Homo sapiens: one gene and its partner. The protein of the gene in region 1 interacts with the protein of each later gene in a pairwise test. Each region holds a gene or a part of one and is shown in the gene's direction. Other genes may lie near its edges. The genes, in order: TMEM106A and ENTPD3.

The links.
Region 2: the proteins of TMEM106A (region 1) and ENTPD3 interact in binary tests that used the Homo sapiens proteins (3 or more experiments, as listed by UniProt).

Annotation. Positions count from the first base shown.
Region 1 is NC_000017.11:43,214,614-43,220,561, forward strand, and holds the end of TMEM106A (transmembrane protein 106A), read left to right. Parts: intron 1-1,174; coding exon 1,175-1,328; intron 1,329-1,835; coding exon 1,836-1,976; intron 1,977-2,083; coding exon 2,084-2,127; intron 2,128-2,645; coding exon 2,646-2,699; intron 2,700-3,067; coding exon 3,068-3,188; 3' UTR 3,189-5,428; downstream 5,429-5,948. UniProt on the Homo sapiens protein: Activates macrophages and polarizes them into M1-like macrophages through the activation of the MAPK and NF-kappaB signaling pathway.
Region 2 is NC_000003.12:40,390,006-40,397,286, forward strand, and holds part of ENTPD3 (ectonucleoside triphosphate diphosphohydrolase 3), read left to right. Parts: intron 1-945; exon of another isoform or gene 946-2,017; coding exon 2,018-2,145; exon of another isoform or gene 2,146-2,564; intron 2,565-7,281. UniProt on the Homo sapiens protein: Has a threefold preference for the hydrolysis of ATP over ADP.

The DNA of each region.
Region 1 (5,948 bases):
ACCTGGGAGTCACCACCAAGCCGAACCCTCTCCGCCACCCCACTATACCAGAATTAGAAATCAGGCTGGGCGTGGTGGTTTATGCCTGTAATCCCAGCACTTTGGGGAGGCCAAGACAGGCGGATCACCTGAGGTTAGGAGTTCAAGACCAGCCTGGCCAACATGGCGAAACCCTGTCTCTACTAAAAATAGAAAAATTATCTGGGCGTGGTGGCAGACACCAGTAATCCTAGCTACTTGGGAGGCTGAGGCAGGAGAATTGTTTGAACCCAGGAGGTGGAGGCTTCAGTGAGCCAAGATCATGCCACTGCACTCCAGCCTGAGCAACAGAGCGAGGCCTCATCTGAAAAAAAAAAAAAAACAAAAAAAAACCCTGTAATCCCAGCACTTTGGGAGGCCAAGGCGGGCAGATCACGAGGTCAGGAGTTTGAGACCAGCCTGACCAACATGGCAAAACCGCCTCTACTAAAAATACAAAAATTAGCCGGGCATAGTGGCAGGCACCTGTAATCCCAGCTACTCAGGAGGCTGAGGCAGGAGAATGGCGTGAACCCGGGAGGTGGAGGTTGCAGTGAGCCGAGATCGTGCCACTGCACTCCAGCTTGGGCGACACAGCAAGACTCCATCTCAAAAAAAAGAAAAAAAAAAGAAATTAGCAGTGCACATCATAAGATACTAACAAAGTACTATCTCTTTAATGCATATCTGAATTTTGAATTGGATGGATGGTGTCCTGTTCTGAATGTTAAAATTCAGAACTTCCAAATATGGACTTATTTCTTCTAGTGATAATAACTAGCATTCATTGTGCTTTTGCCATGTGCAGGGACCTGTGATTAGTATTTTTTCATATATTAGCCGATAACAAATTCTGTGAGGTCAGTACAATTATCTGCCTTTTACCAACAAGGAAACTGAGACTTAAGGAGGCTAAGTGGGCTGCTCCATGTTATTGGGTCAATGGGAACAGAGATCTGGGAGTGGAAACCAGGCTGCCTGCCTGCCAATCCTGTGCTCCTACTCATTCCGGGCCACATCTGGGGAGCTAAATGTTGTTGGGGTAGTGTGCAGGGGAAAGCTTTGTATATGGAGAGGAGTGTCTGAACCCCCTCTCCGAGTTTCCTTGGTGTTCAGACTTTTCCATTCCTCCATCCTGGGTCCTGCTTTCCCACAGGAAGCTCTTTGTGTTCCTGGCCGTGCTCATCTGCCTGGTGACCTCCTCCTTCATCGTCTTTTTCCTGTTTCCCCGGTCCGTCATTGTGCAGCCTGCAGGCCTCAACTCCTCCACAGTGGCCTTTGATGAGGCTGATATCTACCTCAACATAACGGTGGGTGGGTGCCCTTGGCTCCAAACCCCCCTTCCTAGCAATACTTCGCTGTAACCTTTGTCCAGTGTTATGACCCTGGGCATGGGAAGCCAGAGATCTTATGGCACCCAGAGGGTGTTGGGAGCCTGAAGAGAAGTAGGAGCAACCATGAGCTCCATGACAGATGGTAAGGATTGGGACTCTACACAGTAAGGGGTCAGAATCCGGGCCAGATAAGTAAACCACAGGGGTGGAGTGGGGTGACAGTGCCTGAGACTCTCTGGATGGACAGGACTGAATGGAAAGAAGCTGTACAGGATGGACCTGGATCCTGAGGCAGCTTAACTTCGTAAAGTTGACCCCTCACCATTCAATGCCCCTCCAAGGGGCTCCCAGTTTTCATCCTCTGCACCTGAAGCTTGTCATGGTAGATGGGGCTCAGGCCAGACAGCCAGGCTTTTGCAACTGTTTGGCTTTTCCTAAGGATGGGCCATCTTCACTCCTCCCTTCCCTTGTCTTCATCCCCAGAATATCTTAAACATCTCCAATGGCAACTACTACCCCATTATGGTGACACAGCTGACCCTCGAGGTTCTGCACCTGTCCCTCGTGGTGGGGCAGGTTTCCAACAACCTTCTCCTACACATTGGCCCTTTGGCCAGTGAACAGGTGACTCCCCTCTCCCTGGCCAGCCCTGCCCACTGGTGTGTGGATGTGTGGTAGTGGGAAAGGGGCAGCTGGAGTTGGGGCTAACCCTGTGCCCATTTGGTTGACAGATGTTTTACGCAGTAGCTACCAAGATACGGGATGAAAACACATAGTGAGTACCCCTTGATCTCTTCTCCCCTAGCCACTTGCCTGGCTTAGGGACCCAATTAATACCCACCAGCTTTCCTGATTGCTTAGCAAATTCTTCAGCCAGCATCTGGCCTGCCCTCCCATGGCCGAGAATGTAATAAGCAAGGGTTCAGGGTCCCCAGCCTCTGCTTGTTTGGACCTTGATTAGAATGAAAAACAGGCTGGAATTTGGTTAATCTTTACAATATGTGACCTTGGGCTCTTCAGCCTGCATTGCTGAGGAAGAAGAATGTTTTGTCTGTCTCCTGAATGGGGGTCCAGCATGTGCCTGGGCCAAGTGAGTGGAGGTCAGAGTGATAGTGCAGCCATGCTGCTACACTCACCTGAAGGGTGGGAAGGGGTGGGAGTGACATTTTGGGGGCACCTGATGGAAGGAAAGAGTTCTGTGGGGTAAGGAAACTGGGACCTGCAGGCATCTTCTGAGCTGACAGGCTGCTCCATGTGACACGTGGTCCCACGTTCTCTTTTCTTCTCTCTCAGCAAAATCTGTACCTGGCTGGAAATCAAAGTCCACCATGTGCTTTTGCACATCCAGTAAGTAGAGCTTGGAGCTCTGGTATCCCTGCTCTCACTTCTGACTTCATTCTCACTCAGCTACACCTCATGGGCAGAGAGTCTTCCAAGCTGACCCCATGAATCTTTGTTGGCTCTTGGGAATAGCAAGTCTAGCCCCTTTTCTGAGTCTCACCTTGCCTATAAGTTATTAGGGGCAACAGGCATAGGGCTGTCTGGAAGCTGCTGGAAAACAGGTGGGGCAGCTGTCCCAGGTACCTTGGCAGAGTGGGGAGCCAGAGGGAAGGGCAAATGAGGGAGCTCCCCGCTCCCCACCCCCAGACAGTATAATGGGGCCAGAGCTTTCCTTTTCCTCCCAGCCATGGCAACAAGGCCTGCTTCCTCTCCAGGGGCACCCTGACCTGTTCATACCTGAGCCATTCAGAGCAGCTGGTCTTTCAGAGCTATGAATATGTGGACTGCCGAGGAAACGCATCTGTGCCCCACCAGCTGACCCCTCACCCACCATGACCTGTCTGCTGTCCCTGTACTCCAGGCACCTGCAACCCTGGTCTATATCTCCCACAACTCCCTGGTGACTAAGGAAGGACTACAGAGGCTTTGCCAAAGGAGAAGCCCTGCCTCATCACACCCTTACCTCCCACCCCCTCAGCACAGGAAGCTTGCTTTGAAGTTAACTTCATACACACACACTCATATCCTCCAGTTTCCCCCAGATTCTTTCAGGGGCTGCCATCAGATTCTGCCCTTGGTTAGTTTTTTGTTTTTTTTTTGGTAGAGACAGAGTCTCACTGTTGGTCCAGGTTGGTTTTGAACTCCTGGGCTCAAGCGATCCTCCCTTCTTGGCCTCCCAAAGCACTTGGATTACAGATGTGAGCCTGTGCCTGGCTGGTCTTTCTTGAGGAAAATCTGACCTGGCATTTTCTTGAGGCACCTTAGATTCCCTGGAGTGGCACCTGGCCTTTCTGTACTGAGCACCTGGTCAGTCTGAAGGGGGCATTTCACCCCAGCTCCATCAGGGCTGGCTGTCCCGTCTGAATGTGGAGAGAGCTGTAGTTTTATCTGGCTTTTAAAACATGGACCTGCCGGCTGGGCGCAGTGGCTTACACCTGTAATCCCAGTACTTTGGGAGGCCGAAGTGGGTGGATCACTTGAGGGCAGGAGTTCGTGACCAGCCTGGTCAACATGGTGAAACCTTGTCTCTACTAAAAATACAAAAATTAGCTGGGTGTGGTGGCATGCGCCTGTAATCCCAGCTACTCGGGAGGCTGAGGCAGCAGAATCACTTGAAACCGGAAGGCAGAGGTTGCAGTGAGCCAAGATCGTGCAACTGCACTCCAGCCTGGGCAAAAGAGCAAAACTTTGTCTCAAAAAAAGACTCTTTTCAAGTTTTCTACCCTCTGATAAGAAAATTTGGGGATATCCAGTGCCATCTCCAAGGACTTTCAGGGGATCATAGATGCTTTTCTGTGCCTATCTGCTTTGACCATGTGAAAAAGTGATAGTCTGCTTCTCTCTGGTAACTTGTCTGCCACCCATCTGATAGTAAGATTAGCCAAGGCCCTTTAGCCCTCTGTCCTTTCTGGTTATTGACTGTCCCTGGTTCCTAGGAAGACAGAGTTGTTCTCCAGCTAAAGCGTCTCCTCTCTATAAAGTAGTTTTACTATTCTTTTCATAGCAGGAGCCAAAATAGTAGAGGAGGGGAGAGAGGCACCTGGCACTCTGCGGGCCTGCACAGGAAAAACAGAGCCAAAGACAGAATCATTGTATAAGATATTTATTAAAGGAGAGCCTCTAAGTCCACATCCTGAGCCCATGTGAGTGGACACAGGTAGGTAAAACGGTGGGTCCAGCTGCTGTCATCTGAAAGCCTTCAGGAGATGAAGCTATCAGTATCCAGCTGAAGGCTGCTGGGTTCTGTTCCACCACCACCTTAGCACCAGGGCCCTCTCTGGTCCCAGAGGCCTCATCTCTCCTTGGGCTTTGACAATGTGGAGCAGCACATCAGCAGGGACTGGTCTAGACCCTCCCTTTCCTGTCACTTAGCTGGAGCTAAGCTCCAGATAACCCCTAGGTTCCCACTGGCTCCTAGTAGAAATAGTTTCTGTACTTTAGCAGAACAGGAAGGATATTTGTTCATTAAAGGTGGCTTGGTCTTACAGCTGGGTGCAGTGGTATATACCTGTAGTCCCAGCTACTCAGGAAGCTGAGGTGAGAGGATCTCTAGAGCCCAGGAATTCAAGTTTAACATGAGCAGCAACATTAGCAAGACCCCGTTTAAAAAAAAAAAAAGAGCTGGGCGTAATGGCGCACACCTGTAATCCCACCTACTCAGGAGGCTGAGGCAGGAGAATCACTTGAACCTGGGAGGCAGAGGTTGCAGTGAGCCAAGATCGCACCACTGCACTCCAGCCTGGGCAACAAGGGCGAGACTCTGTCTCAAAAAAAAAAAAAAAAAAAGATGGCTGTCTCTTTATCATTCAGACAGAACGATGAACACAGGTGAGCAGGGAAAGCTAATTTTGAAGTAGGATGCATGGAGAGGGAGAAGTGGTGACAGAACTTGGTAACTAGCTGGCTGGGGGAACGAGGGGAAGGAAGGAGACTGCTGTCTCCAAGCTGAGGTCAGGGTGGTGTTGGCAAGAGCGCAAAAGTCCAGGGAAGCCAGGCTGGAGCTGCTGTGTATAGACTGCCAAATGTGAAGTATTTATATTGTATTCAATAAACTATACTTAAGAGTGTTCAAAAAAGTCTCCTGGGAGTGGGAAGGGAGCTAGTGGATACTCCCTATTTCACAAACTTTTCTTTTTTTTTTTTTTTGAGACAGTTTCGCTCTGTTACCCAGGCTAGAGTGCAATGGCATGATCTTGGCACAGTGCAACCTCTGCCTCCTGTGTTCAAGTGATTCTCGTGCCTCAGACTCCCTGAGTAGTTGGGGTTACAGACATGCACCACCACACCAAATTAATTTTTGTATTTTTAGTAGAGACAGTGTTTTATCATGTTAGCCAGGCTGGTCTCAAACTCCTGGCCTCAAGCGATCTGCCCGCCTCGGCCTCCCAGAGTGCTGGGATTACAGGCATGAGCCACTGCACCTGGCAGAAACTGTTTCCTTAATGTTCTAACGGGCAGCAAGGTTTCTTCCCCAGGCCTCTGAGCCACTGATGACATATCCTGCCCTTCTGTTTTCCGTGAGATTGCTCACAGGACCTCACTCTCCCTCTTGCTCCCATTGTGTATCTCTAAAGTCTCTTCCAATTTTACTATTCC
Region 2 (7,281 bases), on another chromosome or scaffold:
TGGTTATTGAACACTGGAAATGTGGCTAGTAAGATTGAGAGACTGCATTTTTTTATTTTAATTAATTTACATTTAGATAGCCAATTGATTAGATATATATTGGAATTCGATGAATCTAGTGATCTTTCTATTAGTGTTCATCATATTTCAACCATTTGGTTGTCATTTATGTTGATGTCCCAATAGTTTTACCAAGACTATTATTATTATTTTTTTAGAGACAAGGTCTCACTCTGTCACCAGGCTGGAGTATAGCGGCACAGCTCACTGCAGCCTTGAGCTCCTGGGATCAAAGGATCCTCCAACTTCAACCTCCTGAGTAGCTTGGGCTACAGGTGTGCACCACATGTACAGTTGATTTTTTTCATTTTTTGTAGAGACGGGGTCTCACTATGTGGCTCAGGCTGGCATCTAACGCCTGGCCTCAAGCATCTTCCCATCTCAGCCTCCCAAAGCTGGGATTACAGGCATAAGCCACTATACCCAGCCCAAGATTATTATTTAGTCAGTATTTTCATTGAATGTCTTTTTATCTTTTTAAAAAATTAGGTATAACTTCTATTCAGTGAAATGGATAGATCTTAAGTCGTGCCCCTAAGTTGGGTGTTCTTGCCTTCTAAAAGTATGTTTTTAGAATAGTAAGGGCAATTTATAAGTTTATAATGTTTTTTTAAAAGGAAATTATACCTAAGACACTGATTTGCTTTCATTTTCAAGTTTTCTCCAAAGGACTTTGAAAGGTTTGATGAGTTTTGACAAATGCACACATCCATATACTCCACACTCTGTATAGCGCATTGCCATTACCCCAAGAAAGTGCCCACATATTCCTTCTCAGTGAATCCCTGCCCCAACTTCTGCCCCCTGGCAATCACTATTCTGATTCCTGTTACCTTCCTACTTTTGAACTTCAAATAAATGAAATCATTTCAGTATAGTATAGTACTAATTTTTTTATTTTTATTTTATTTTATTGAGACAAGGTCTTATTCTGTCACCCAGGCTGGTGTGTAGTAGTTTGATCTCAACTCATTGCAACCTCCACCTCCTGGCTTCAAGCAATTCTCCCACCTCAGTCTCCCGAGTAGCTGGGACTACAGGCGCATATGATCACACCTGGCTAATTTTTGTATTTCTTGGTAGAGACATGGTTTCACCATATTGGCCAGGCTGGTCTTGAACTCCTGACCTCAAGTGATCCACCCACTTCGGCCTCCCAAAGTGCTGGGATTACAGGGGTCAGCCATCTGCCCAGCCTAATTTCTTTTTCTTTAACTGAGATTATTTTTAAATGAAATATTCTATGAGATTATTTTTAAGTGAAATATTCTATCACCTGGTTTAATTTTTTAAAAATAGATTTTTTGAATCTCCATTAAAACTAATGTTAGCTGGGCGTGGTGGCTCACACCTGTAATCCCAGCACTTTGGGAGACCGAGACAGGCAGATCACTTGAGCCCAGGAGTTCGAGACCAGCCTGGCCAACATGGTGAAACCCTGTCTCTATTAAAAATACAAAAATTGGCTGCCGTGGTAGCAGGCACCTGTAATCTCAGCTATTCAGGAGGCAGAGGCAGAAGAATCGCTTGAACCTGGGAGTTGGAAGCTGCAGTGAGCCAAGATCACGGCACAGCACTCTAACCTGGGCGATAGAGTGAGACTCCATCTCAAAAAAAAAAAAAAAGAAAAGAAAAAGAAAAAAGTAAAACAAATGTTATTGTAATTCATCTCAGGGATAACCAAAATATCAGAAAACTAGACCATGCATACCCTCCCTGCAACACTGTTTTAGTACACAATTTGTGAGGAAGGGCAAATAGGTATTGTTTGTGCTTCCCCAAAACTGGGGAGAAGGGGAGCTTATTTGCTACTCCATCTTAGAAGTGTGGGTCTCGCTAACACCAGAGAAGGTGGTTTATGCACCTGATTATGGGGCCAGTCCATCAATTCTACAAAGAATACCAGTGCCTGGTTTTTACCTCCCCCTCAAGTGTCTTCTGGGTCTTCTCATTTTAGGCCTCAAGGCCCTCTACCGAACTCCAACCATCATTGCCTTGGTGGTCTTGCTTGTGAGTATTGTGGTACTTGTGAGTATCACTGTCATCCAGATCCACAAGCAAGAGGTCCTCCCTCCAGGACTGAAGGTAAGTGTGAAGGGACTGGCAACAAAGGGAAGAAATGAGCATAAAGGGGAAGAAATCAATTATTCCAAAACCATGAGTTAGAAGAGCAGAAAATCCTTTCCCCCCATCTCTGGCTGAAGCCAGGAGAAGTTAGTGTAAGACGCAAGGGAGAAGGTCTGGACATGCTGGGTTTGTGATATTTGAGGCTACAAATTGAGGGTAGTGACTGACACCTTCTCCAAGGACTGTGTAGTCTTGCTTTGACTTCTGACTTCAAAGCTAAAATTTGTAACCAAGAGTTGCAGATAGCTATCAAAGATTTACCAGTTCAGCCAGGTGCGGTGGCTCACGCCTGTAAGGCACTTTGGGAGGCTGAGGCAGGTGGATTGCTTGAGTCCACGAGTTCGAGACTAGCTTGGGCAACATGGTGAAACCCATCTCTATCAAAAAAAAAAAAAAAAAATTTACCGGTTAGTGCACTTTCCATTTTGACCAGTTTATCTGTTCTCCCAACCACACAACCCTGATAATGAGTAAAGACCGAGGCTGAGCACAGTGGCTCATGTCTGTAATTCCAGCACTTCGAGAGGCCGAGGAAGAAGGATTGCTTGAGCCCAGGAGTTCAAGACCAACCTGGGCAATATAGAGAGACTCCATCTCTACCAAAAAGAAATTTTTCCAAAAAAAGGAAAAAAGAAGTCAAGACCAGGAGACCCAGGCACCTCTTCTAGCCTAGGCTGAGTGAACAAAAAATCAAGAACTTGAGAAGGTCTCCTTGAGCTCTATTTGTGCTGCTACTCTTGAGTCTAGAACATGTGCTGTGTTCCTTCCAACACTTCCCTCAACAACACCCCCCCGGCAAAAAAAAAAAAAAAATTACTCAGGACCTTGTGCTTAGTCCCAGAGGCCCCTCTTAGTTCTCAACAAGTCCATCCCCAAATGATCTTTAGGCTCAGAATCATAATATATCCCCAGGCTTGGCTCTGAGGGTGCCCTTGGAGACAGGAGGTGATTCCATGAGAGGCTGACAAGGGAAAGATGAAGCAAGTTGATGAGTCCTTCAATCATTTTGGGTAGGGGTCAGCAAACATTTCTCATAAAGGGTCAAATAGTATATATTTTAGGCTTTGAGGTCCATTTATAGTCTCTGTTTTATAACTCTTCTTTGTTTTTTGACTCATTAAGAATGTACAAACCCTTCTTAGCTGTGCCATAGGGACCAGGTAATTCAGCCATGTTCTTTGAATCTCATTTAACATTTACACTTGACCTCACAAGTCTTTTCCATATCTTCCTGCTGTTAGTGACTATTCAAAGGTAATATTTGAAATACATAGACATTTTTAAAAGAAAAGAAACTAATATTGTTTTGGACTCTAAGGATGGGTTTGAGCTAACATTCTAAGGCAGCTTTTCTAAAAGATTAGAGTAAAATCTCCATTAGATAATATAATAGCATTTGGTTCCTTGATAGGATATTTTATTTAAGAATCTCAGCCCTCATGAATAATGTGAATTAAAAATTAAAAAAAAACCTTATGCAATCACCCAATAATGAGAAGAAAGCAAATTACCCAGTTGTCCAAAGATATTAGCTGAGGCCTAAAAGAAGGTGTTTTCCCAAGCTCCAGGCACTGCCTTCTACAAACTACTGTATATAAAATTGGGACTTTGGGAGGCCGAGGCGGGCGGATCACGAGGTCAGGAGATTGAGACCGTCCTGGCTAACGTGGTGAAACCCCATCTCTACTAAAAATACAAAAAATTAGCTGGGCGTGGTGGTGGGCGCCTGTAGTCCCAGCTAGCTACTCAGGAGGCTGAGGCAGGAGAATGGCGTGAACCCGGGAGGTGGAGGTTGCAGTGAGCTGAGATAGTGCCAACTGCATTCCAGCCTGGGCAACAGAGCGAGACTCTGTCTCAAAAAAAAAAAAAAAAAAAAAAAAAAGGAACTGCAACTAAGAGTAATATATTTTTTATTTTTTATTTTATTGTTATTATTTTGTGAGACGGAGTCGTGCTCCGTCACCTAGGCTGGAATGCAGTGGCATGATCTTGGCTCGCCCCAACCTCTGCCTCCACAGTTCAAGTGATTCTACTGCCTCAGCCTCCCAAGTAGCTAGGATCACAGGTGCCCACCACCATGCCCAGCTAATTTTTTCTTGCTGTATTTTTAGTACAGATAGGGTTTCACCGTGTTGACCAGGCTAGTCTTGAACTCCTGACCTCAGGTGATCCACCCACCTCAGCCTCCCAGAGTGGTGGGATTATAAGCATGAGCCACCGTGCCCAGCCGCAACTAAGAGTAATATCTCTTTACACTTTGTATAGTGCTATTCAGTTAAGTCAGCGCTTTTCCCTCATTACATCACTTAGTTCTTATGCCAACCATAGAAGGTGGACAAAGCGAGCACCATGACTGCCATTTTGAAAGTGAGAAAATACAGGTTTGGTCAGTGAATGACAGGTCCAGAACTGAAACCTGGTCCCTTCTGTTCCCAAGGCCAGGGCTCTCTTCACTGCCTCCCACTTCTCCCTGACCCTGAGTTCTGAATGGAGATCCCAAATGGAGGGAAGGGATTGGCCTCAGATAAGAGAACACTTCCTGCTTTGCACAGGATGGAAAGGTAGGGAGGATGCATGCAGATGTGGGAAGGTTTGTTGAATTGAAGGAGAGGAGTTAAGCCTAGTACCACCCTTAGACCCTGATAGCTGGGCTGCCTGCCCTGGGCCCCACATTTCAGAAGGACCAGCTCTAGTTGCACTTCAGGCTTATCTCTCTCTATGACCCAAACGAATGTGTTTACCCAGAGCCCATGTTTCCCCTTCTAGAACACACTGTGGTGCCCAAGACTTCAGAATCTAGGGTCTTCGTGGACCTCCAGAAGGTGGACATCACCAATGGTCTGAGGGGTGGCCAAGAGGCAGCTGCTTACAGGGAGTGTAAACAGAGCATAGCTGTGTGGTCTGAACTGTCCACACACAGGTGCATGGGCTCTTTATTCTGTGAGAACAGGTTTGGGAAAGGGACAGGGCAGAAGCCTCTATTCATAAAATTTTGTCTCTAATCCTACAAATGTTAGAAATGGGCTGGTTAAGGCAGTTGCCAGCTGATGGCTTCTACTTGTTCTGGACAGTAACAGGCAAGTCCTCTGTTCAAAATGGAGAGACATGGAGGAATCAGATGGAAGACTAGTAAAATGAGTAGATAAAAATAGATCCCTGGGCAGTCTAGAGGGCACTGTTGAAGGAGAAAACCACACATGTTGAATGCTACTGTCTTAGGTTGGGCTCTCCAAGTCAAAGACATACGTGCAAGTAGATCATCTGGGGATGATCCCAGGAAACACTGGTGAGGGACTAGGGAACTGAGATGGGTCAGGCAGCCAAGAGAGGGCCTGCTATGCAGCAGGTCGGCACTGTGGGCAACTGGGACTCAGTCCTGCTTGAGACCCTGTGAGCTGGTACAGAGAACTCAAAGTTGTCCCATATCAAGGGGCATACAGGCATGTGCCTCCCAGATATCCCAGTCAAGGGCATATTTATTCACCAGCTTCCATCAGTCATTAGCTGAGAGGCTGCTCCCTGGATGTTAACTCTCTAGTCCTTCTGGCATATTTTGTGATCAGGTAGACTCGGGCCACTAGTTAAGCCTTCAGGCAGGTGGAAGATGGATAGTTCTACATCACAGTAGTAAGGCCTGAGGGGATGTGGGCAGAGAATTGTCAGTGACTACTCCATGTAAATAATATTGTTATTATCCCTGTATTGCAGATGAGAAAACAGGAAAAGAAAGGGCAAATAGCTTCCCATAGTTACACAGATTGAAAATAGCAGAACTGGTGTAAAGGAAAGAAAAGAGAACAGACAACAGTGGCCTTAAACAAGGGTTTGGAGGAACCAGGAGACACACCCTCCACCAATCAGCAGGCAGTTCAAAGAGGGGATTTTAAATCTCTTCTGAATCTTGGTAACAGACCCTAGCCACCATTGCAAGGGACAGGAAATTGTAAAACACAGGAAGATGAGCTCGGAAGGTCCATTCTGCTTAATTGGGTGGATTAAATGTGAGAAAAGACAGATGTTCTGGGCCAGTTGAACCAGAAACGGAATGACAGCTTTGGAAGAGAGTGTTCCACATGCAGTTTTTCTCAGGATATGGAGAGATCTCTCTTTTTTTGTTTTGAAGAGGATTGCAGGTGATGAAGTTGAGCAAATATGAGGGATTTTAAATTATTTGTTATGTTTATTTTTTTATACCATGAGCCCTGTTTTGCTTTCGTGTGCAGCTGACAGTTGGTTCTAAAGGGCCAGCTCTACAACAGCCTGTCTGGAGGGCTCTGAAATGTTACAGAGGACTCTCATGCAAGGTCGTATCTGGCTATTAAATCTAACCTTGGCTTGCCTAACCCTGGTTTATGTGAGGTTATGGTCAGAACTATTAAAATGCAGTCAAGGGGCGAAAATGTCTGAGTCTCTTGTGTTACTGGTCTGACTTGCTCCACAAGCTTGAAGAGTAAACATGATGCCATCACTTGTAATTTTCACTCGGCCCCCAGTCCCCCGCTTTATCATCATGAAGTCCAATACCTTCCTCTTGAGGCTTCACCCTCCCTACCCCTAATCATAACCATCCAAGAACTTTAGAGCTTCTCAGTCCAATGATCAATACTATTGTACTGCCTCTTGCAGCCATGTGATGTCACTGTTGAAGATGGGTTCTGCACAGTCTAAAGGTTTTAAGGATGGGCTTTTCCACTGTGACCTGCTCAGCCCACATTAGTTCCCCATACTGGGTCCAAGATCATAAGCCATTTTAGTCTACACTCCCATGCTCAGCCATTACTCTCCAAAGCAAAACCACTGGCCCAGTCTGTGTTGAAATCATTCCCTTTTAACCCTCATTGAGCCTTGCTCATCAGCCTGGATTTCTGGTGCCTTGTAGCCCACCCTGGTCTACTTCTTGGAGAGTAAGAGTTGGATAATTAGTTTCTTTTTTTTTTTTTTTTTTTTCAGAAAGCCTCGGTCTCCTTATGCAAATGGGTCCTCTCCTCCAGCCAGATCTGCACACCCCTTAACTAAGACTTTACTTTCAAGGGACTTTTTGTTTAAATAAGAAAGTCTGCAATGCACCTGATTACTGAACAGTCATGCCATTAC